Homo sapiens: one gene and its partner. The protein of the gene in region 1 purifies or fractionates together with the protein of each later gene. This does not show direct contact. Each region holds a gene or a part of one and is shown on either strand. Other genes may lie near its edges. The genes, in order: FUT2 and MCAM.

What was found.
Region 2: the proteins of FUT2 (region 1) and MCAM purify together in Homo sapiens (co-immunoprecipitation; one study listed by IntAct). This does not show direct contact.

The regions. Positions count from the first base shown.
Region 1 is NC_000019.10:48,694,315-48,698,224, reverse strand, and holds the start of FUT2 (galactoside alpha-(1,2)-fucosyltransferase 2), read right to left. Parts: upstream 2,255-3,910; 5' UTR 2,136-2,254; intron 1-2,135.
Region 2 is NC_000011.10:119,307,719-119,311,079, reverse strand, and holds the end of MCAM (cell surface glycoprotein MUC18 precursor), read left to right. Parts: intron 1-176; coding exon 177-324; intron 325-613; coding exon 614-731; intron 732-1,164; coding exon 1,165-1,194; 3' UTR 1,195-2,551; downstream 2,552-3,361. UniProt on the Homo sapiens protein: Plays a role in cell adhesion, and in cohesion of the endothelial monolayer at intercellular junctions in vascular tissue.

The DNA of each region.
Region 1 (3,910 bases):
AGATGCCCTGCACGGCATGATCAGGAACCTTTTATGTGCTGTGTGACTTTAACCCAGGGCTTTTACCTCTCTGTGTTTCATTGTCCTTGTCTGTCCATCAACAGGGGGTTGTGGGGAGGGATAAAAACAACACCTCCCCAGAGGTTTCAGTGAGCTGAGATCACACCATTGCACTCCAGCCTGCACAACACAGTGAGACTCCGTCTCAAAAAAAAAAAAAAAAAAAAAAAAGAGCCAGTGCAGTGGCTCATGCCTGTAATCCCAGCACTTTGGTAGGCTGAGGCGGGTGGATCACCTGAGGTCAGGAGTTCGAGACCAGCCTGACTAATATGGTGAAACCCCATTTCTACTAAATACAAAAAATTAGCCAGGCATGGTGGCTCATGACTGTAATCTCAGCTACTTGGGAGGCTGAGGAAGGAGAATCGCTTGAACCTGGGAGGCGGAGGTTGCAGTGAGCCGAGATTGTACCATTGCATGCCAGCCTGGGCAACAAGAGCAAAAATCCATCTCAAAAAGATACAACAACAACAACAAACCACACCTCCCTTAGGGCTGCGTGGGCACAAAGGGAAATGCTGTATTACATGGGCTGTCCCTGGTATTCAGAGCAGAATTTGTGCCCCAAACTCACACTTATGTCAGGCTTGAACCAAGCACCACTCCCATTCTGCCTGAAGGCATTATTTTTTTTGAATTGCTTTTTTTGTAGGGATGGTGGGGAGGGGGTCTTGCTATGTGGCCCACACTGATCTCAAACTCCTGGCCTCAGGAGGTCCTCTGTTCTCCTTCCTCAGCCTCCCAAAGTGCTGGGATTACAGGCATGAGACACCACACCTGGTCTATCTTACTGAGATTTTTTTTTTTTTTTTTTTTTTTGAGACGGAGTTTTGCTCTTGTTCCCCAGGCTGGAGTGCAATGGCACAATCTCGGCTCACCACAACCTCCGCCTCCCGGGTTCAAACGATTCTCCTGCCTCAGCCTCCCGAGTAGCTGGGATTACAGGCATGCACCACCACGCCTGGCTAATTTTGTATTTTTAGTAGAGACGGGGTTTCTCCATGTTGGCCAGACTGGTCTCGAACTCCTGACCTCAAGTGATCCGCCTGTCTCGGCCTCCCAAAGTGCTGGGATTACAGGCGTCAGCCACCACGTCCAGCCCCGTCCACGTCTTTCTATTGCGGCCCGGCTTCCTCCTCTCCCCTCTGTCCCCTACACCCAGCGCCGGCCCTGCCCCTTCCCAGCTCGCAGCCCCTTCAGGGCTCCCTATGCCTCTTAAGACACAATCCCAGTCTCTCGCCGGCCCCGCACACCCCTCCGGCTTTGTCACCAGCTGTTCCCGTGAAATAACCCAGCTCTCCGCTCACCCGGGGCCCCGTCCTGTCCCCCAGCTCTGAAAGCCTTTCTCTACCCCAACCGCCCCGTGCCCCGGGCAGCTCAGCACATCCGGCTCAGTCGCACCCCACTGCCTCGAGCTCGCTGTCTTCCTGCACCTCCCCGGGATTCCCGGATTCCCGGCATTATCACTTCCACCCTGGGGAGGAGAAGGGAGCTTCAGACAATAACGTAGGGCCATCACTTGGAAACCCCACCTTTATTCTCCGACCCAGAACAGAAGCGGTGATTCAGAGCGGGATTAGGGAGTGCAGGAGGGACGGAGCCGCCCTCCCTGGGCGACGGCAGGGCTCGGAGGTGAGACCAGCAGTTTGGGTTCCATGAAGCCTCTGAGGAGCCCCAGGGTGGAGGCAGGAAAGTCGGGTCACCACCAGCTGTGCGCGAGCCATCTGCACCATTACTGCCAGGGTGGTTCATAGAAACTGCTGAGGGGAAGGAGACAAGGAAGGACCTGGTGGCCCGGGGTGGAGAAGGGGAGGGAGCTGGTGGTTGGAGCTCTAGAAACAGATCCACCTGGAAGGAAGTGGGGAGGGAGCTAAGGAGGGCGGCTGGCTGGGGAGGGGGGTCCTGGCTGCCGAGGGAGGGACCCTCCTCTCCTGGAGGTCCTGAGTTGGGGGTGCCTCCCAGAGGGCACCAGGGACCCACGAGGGCACACAGGTCCACGTCCCAAATCCCTGCTCTCCGCCTGGGCGTGTGTGCAGAGGTGTGCGTGTTGTAGGGTGGGAGAGGAGCCCCCTCACCTTCTCTCACCTGGTCCTGCTGAAGGAAACCGGGACAGAGTGGTTGGGCAGGCACCTCAGTGTTCCCTCTGGGTCTCTCTTCACTCAGGGCCAAAGAAACCCTTCCAGCATCGGTGACTGGCAAACCCCGCCCAGGAGCTACAGGGCTTTCCAGAGCAGGTGTGGCTGGGCTGCGGGAGGGAGGTGAGCCCGTAGCCCCTCCTCCCTCCCCATTGCCGGCCACAAAGTCCATCTTGTTATCTACCCTTAGCTCCTCCACCTGCACCAGGCACCCCAAGCCTGGCCATAAGGGTGGGGGAGAGAGGCAGGACAAGGTCGCATCCCCCATCCGGGTCCCCGAGGGTCTTCCTTGGGGAACTGTTGTGATGCCCCAACAGAAAGGGGCCCCCACTCTGCTCCGCTCCTCCAGGCAGCCAGGAAGGCCTCCAGGAAGGCAGCATGGAGGCGGGGGACAGAGTCCTGCTAGGCCAGGCTCTCGCTGACTCTGAGTCCCCTCAGAGTCTTATATTTATTTATTAATTAATTATTAGTAGTATTACTTTTTGAGAGAGTTTTGCTCTTGTTGCCCAGGCTGGAGTGCAATGGCGTGATCTCAGCTCACTGCAACCGCCGCCTCACAAGTTCAAGGGATTCTCCTGCCTCAGCTTCCCAAAGTGCTGGGATTACAGACGTGAGCCACCTCGCCCTGCCTATTTCAAAAAAATTTTTAAATACAAATGGGCCCGGTGTGGTGACTCACACCTGTAATTCTAGCACTTTGGGAGGCCGAGGCAGGCGGATCAACTGAGGTCAGGAGTCAGAGACCAGCCTGGCCAACAAGGTGAAACCCCGTCCTTATAAGAATACAGAAATTAGCCATGGCCCAGCACAGTGGCTCATGCCTGTAATCCCAGCACTTTGGGAGGCCGAGGCAGGTGGATCACCTGAGGTCAGGAGTTTGAGACCAGTCTGGCCAACATGGTGAAACCCTGTCTCTACTAAAAATGCAAAAATCAGTGGGGCGTGGTGGCATGCACCTGTAATCCCAGCTACTTGGGAGGCTGAGGCAGGAGAATCGCTTGAACTTGGGAGGCGGAGGTTGCAGTAAACTGAGATTACACCATTGCACTCCAGCCTGGGAAACAAGAGCAAAACTCTGTCTCAAAAAAAAAAAAGATGGATGAGGAATTTTACTGAGAGAAGAGGCAGGCACCACCAGAGCTCCCAGCAGTCCTAACAGGAGGAAAGAGAAACCAGCAGCCACTCCCCAGCTTCAGCTAAGCAGCAGGAGGCTACCTACCAGCTACGGAGCTCCCTTCAAACAAACAAACAAAAAAATCAGATCAAGCTTCCCACTCTAACCACCAGTTTGCAGAAAACAGGAGGACAAAGTTCCCAGTGAAACGACACCATGAGGCAGCAATCAGCCCAGTCCAGAATGTGAGCCCGTCCACAGGACAAACGACCTGTTTCCCTGTGATTCAGCGACAAGGAAAAAAGAAACAGGGTGGGGCGGGGAAGTGGGGAGGTGAGCTGTCATAAAATATGCAAAACAGGCCAGGTGTGGTGGCTCACGCCTGTAATCCCAGCACTTTGGGAGGCTGAGTCGGGCGGATCACGAGGTCAGGAGATTGAGACCATCCTGGCTAATACAGTGAAACCCCGTCTCTACTAAAAATATATATAAAAAAAAAATTAGCCGGGCGTGGTGGTGGGTGCCTGTAGTCCCAGCTACTTGGGAGGCTGAGGCAGGAGAATGGCGTGAACCCCGGGGGCGGAGCTTGCAGTGAGCCGAG
Region 2 (3,361 bases), on another chromosome or scaffold:
CCTGGCAAGAGAACAGGGCTGTGCCAGGGCATCCTTTCTGCCCTGTCCCTCCCCAGAGAGCCCTGTCCAGAAAGGTGAGTAGCAGCCCCATCTTGTCGGCCCTGGACTGGCTGGGCCAACGATGGTGACGAAGTGGCCTGGGGCAGGGAGTGACGAGGAGTGTCTTTGTGGCGCAGAGAGAAAGCTGCCGGAGCCGGAGAGCCGGGGCGTGGTCATCGTGGCTGTGATTGTGTGCATCCTGGTCCTGGCGGTGCTGGGCGCTGTCCTCTATTTCCTCTATAAGAAGGGCAAGCTGCCGTGCAGGCGCTCAGGGAAGCAGGAGATGTAAGCCCAACACCGGCCCCTCCGCCCCCGCCCGTTTTGCCACCCAGCCTGCTGCCTGCCCAGCGCCCGCCTGCCCCTTGACAGCAGGAGTGGGGCCCTGGGTCAGGGTGCTGCCTGCTCCACTACCCACTGCCCAGCTTCCATCAGCCACATGGTCTCATGACCTGCTTCCCTGCCCTGGGCTGGCCCTGGAGCAAGGAGCCCTCATCCATTCCACATCCTTCACAGCGGGCCCTTCTCTTCCTGTGGCCCTGAGATACCAACCTCTCACCTCCCTCCCTCCTCCCAGCACGCTACCCCCGTCTCGTAAGAGCGAACTTGTAGTTGAAGTTAAGTCAGATAAGCTCCCAGAAGAGATGGGCCTCCTGCAGGGCAGCAGCGGTGACAAGAGGGCTCCGGGAGACCAGGTAGGAGGCGGTTCCTGTGGCCAGAGCCTGCCACATCCTCAGGGACCGGGGGCAGTAGGGACTAACGGTTCTCTCTATCCTTCATCCCTCTTTGTCAGAGATAGGGAGCAGGCCCCATCTTGCCTTCTTAACACTACTCACAGATGGCAGGGCCAAGCAAGTGGCTGAGGGAGCTTGGAGGAAGACTGAGAAAGACCCTGTCCCATCACCTTTTCCTGACCAATGCCCGTGGCTCTGGGTGTGGCCATTTCACCAGTGCAGTCAGACGGGGGCCGCCCTCCTTCCCTGGCCTGCCATGCCCATCCTAGCTTCCTCCCCAACGCTGCCCACCAAATTCATCGGCTTCTGCTTCCATCTCTCCTTCCTCTCGGTGCTCACACCTTCAACTCAGCACCGTCTCCGTGTTCCCCTCTTCTCCTCTACCCACTTTTAGGGAGAGAAATACATCGATCTGAGGCATTAGCCCCGAATCACTTCAGCTCCCTTCCCTGCCTGGACCATTCCCAGCTCCCTGCTCACTCTTCTCTCAGCCAAAGCCTCCAAAGGGACTAGAGAGAAGCCTCCTGCTCCCCTCGCCTGCACACCCCCTTTCAGAGGGCCACTGGGTTAGGACCTGAGGACCTCACTTGGCCCTGCAAGGCCCGCTTTTCAGGGACCAGTCCACCACCATCTCCTCCACGTTGAGTGAAGCTCATCCCAAGCAAGGAGCCCCAGTCTCCCGAGCGGGTAGGAGAGTTTCTTGCAGAACGTGTTTTTTCTTTACACACATTATGGCTGTAAATACCTGGCTCCTGCCAGCAGCTGAGCTGGGTAGCCTCTCTGAGCTGGTTTCCTGCCCCAAAGGCTGGCTTCCACCATCCAGGTGCACCACTGAAGTGAGGACACACCGGAGCCAGGCGCCTGCTCATGTTGAAGTGCGCTGTTCACACCCGCTCCGGAGAGCACCCCAGCAGCATCCAGAAGCAGCTGCAGTGTTGCTGCCACCACCCTCCTGTCTGCCTCTTCAAAGTCTCCTGTGACATTTTTTCTTTGGTCAGAAGCCAGGAACTGGTGTCATTCCTTAAAAGATACGTGCCGGGGCCAGGTGTGGTGGCTCACGCCTGTAATCCCAGCACTTTGGGAGGCCGAGGCGGGCGGATCACAAAGTCAGGACGAGACCATCCTGGCTAACACGGTGAAACCCTGTCTCTACTAAAAATACAAAAAAAAATTAGCTAGGCGTAGTGGTTGGCACCTATAGTCCCAGCTACTCGGAAGGCTGAAGCAGGAGAATGGTATGAATCCAGGAGGTGGAGCTTGCAGTGAGCCGAGACCGTGCCACTGCACTCCAGCCTGGGCAACACAGCGAGACTCCGTCTCGAGGAAAAAAAAAGAAAAGATACGTGCCTGCGGTGAGGAAGCTGGGCGCTGTTTTCGAGTTCAGGTGAATTAGCCTCAATCCCCCGTGTTCACTTGGCTCCCATAGCCCTCTTGATGGATCACGTAAAACTGAAAGGCAGCGGGGAGCAGACAAAGATGAGGTCTACACTGTCCTTCATGGGGATTAAAGCTATGGTTATATTAGCACCAAACTTCTACAAACCAAGCTCAGGGCCCCAACCCTAGAAGGGCCCAAATGAGAGAATGGTACTTAGGGATGGAAAACGGGCCTGGCTAGAGCTTCGGGTGTGTGTGTCTGTCTGTGTGTATGCATACATATGTGTGTATATATGGTTTTGTCAGGTGTGTAAATTTGCAAATTGTTTCCTTTATATATGTATGTATATATATATATGAAAATATATATATATATGAAAAATAAAGCTTAATTGTCCCAGAAATCATACATTGCTTTTTATTCATCATGGGTACCACAGGAACCTGGGGGCCTGTGAAACTACAACCAAAAGGCACACAAAACCGTTTCCAGTTGGCAGCAGAGATCAGGGGTTACCTCTGCTTCTGAGCAAATGGCTCAAGTTCTACCAGAGCAGACAGTCACCCTACTTTTCAGCAGCAAAACTGCCCTGATGACGCAGCACGAAGGGCCTGGCAGGCTGTTAGCAGGAGCTATGTCCCCTTCCTATGCTTTCCTGCCACTTGGAACTGCCCTCCAGACAGCAGCTCAGGCTCACCGCCATGAGGAAGGGGGCCTTGGCATTTGGTCCTACGGCAACTCGAGTATTGCCTCCCAACCCCCTGAATGAGCAAGAACTCAAGTCTGCTACAACAAAAGAAACTTTATTTAAAAATATTTTTTTACAGACATGGGTGCTTGAAAAAGCTCTTTAGTTAACTAACTGTGTATGGAAATGAAAAAAAATTAATAAATAACATTAGTAAAACAGACTTCTAAACATTAATACACTGGCAAAATAAAATGGACTTAAAATGAAAATGAATCTTAAAGCTCTGCTATTCTCTGTAAGAATATTTACCTTCTGTTTTTCTTATTCTTTACAGGTGAGAATGATTAAATACTGCTAATATAAATTTTTTATATTAATGACACATTTTTAAAATAGTCCACGAAAATCTCACCTATGTGTTTGTTTTGTTTTCTTCTTAACACTGATATACAAATTGGGACTCTTCATTCTGGAGAAAGCATCAGGTTCTCTCCAGCACTCCCAGGCTAAGAATTTCAAAAT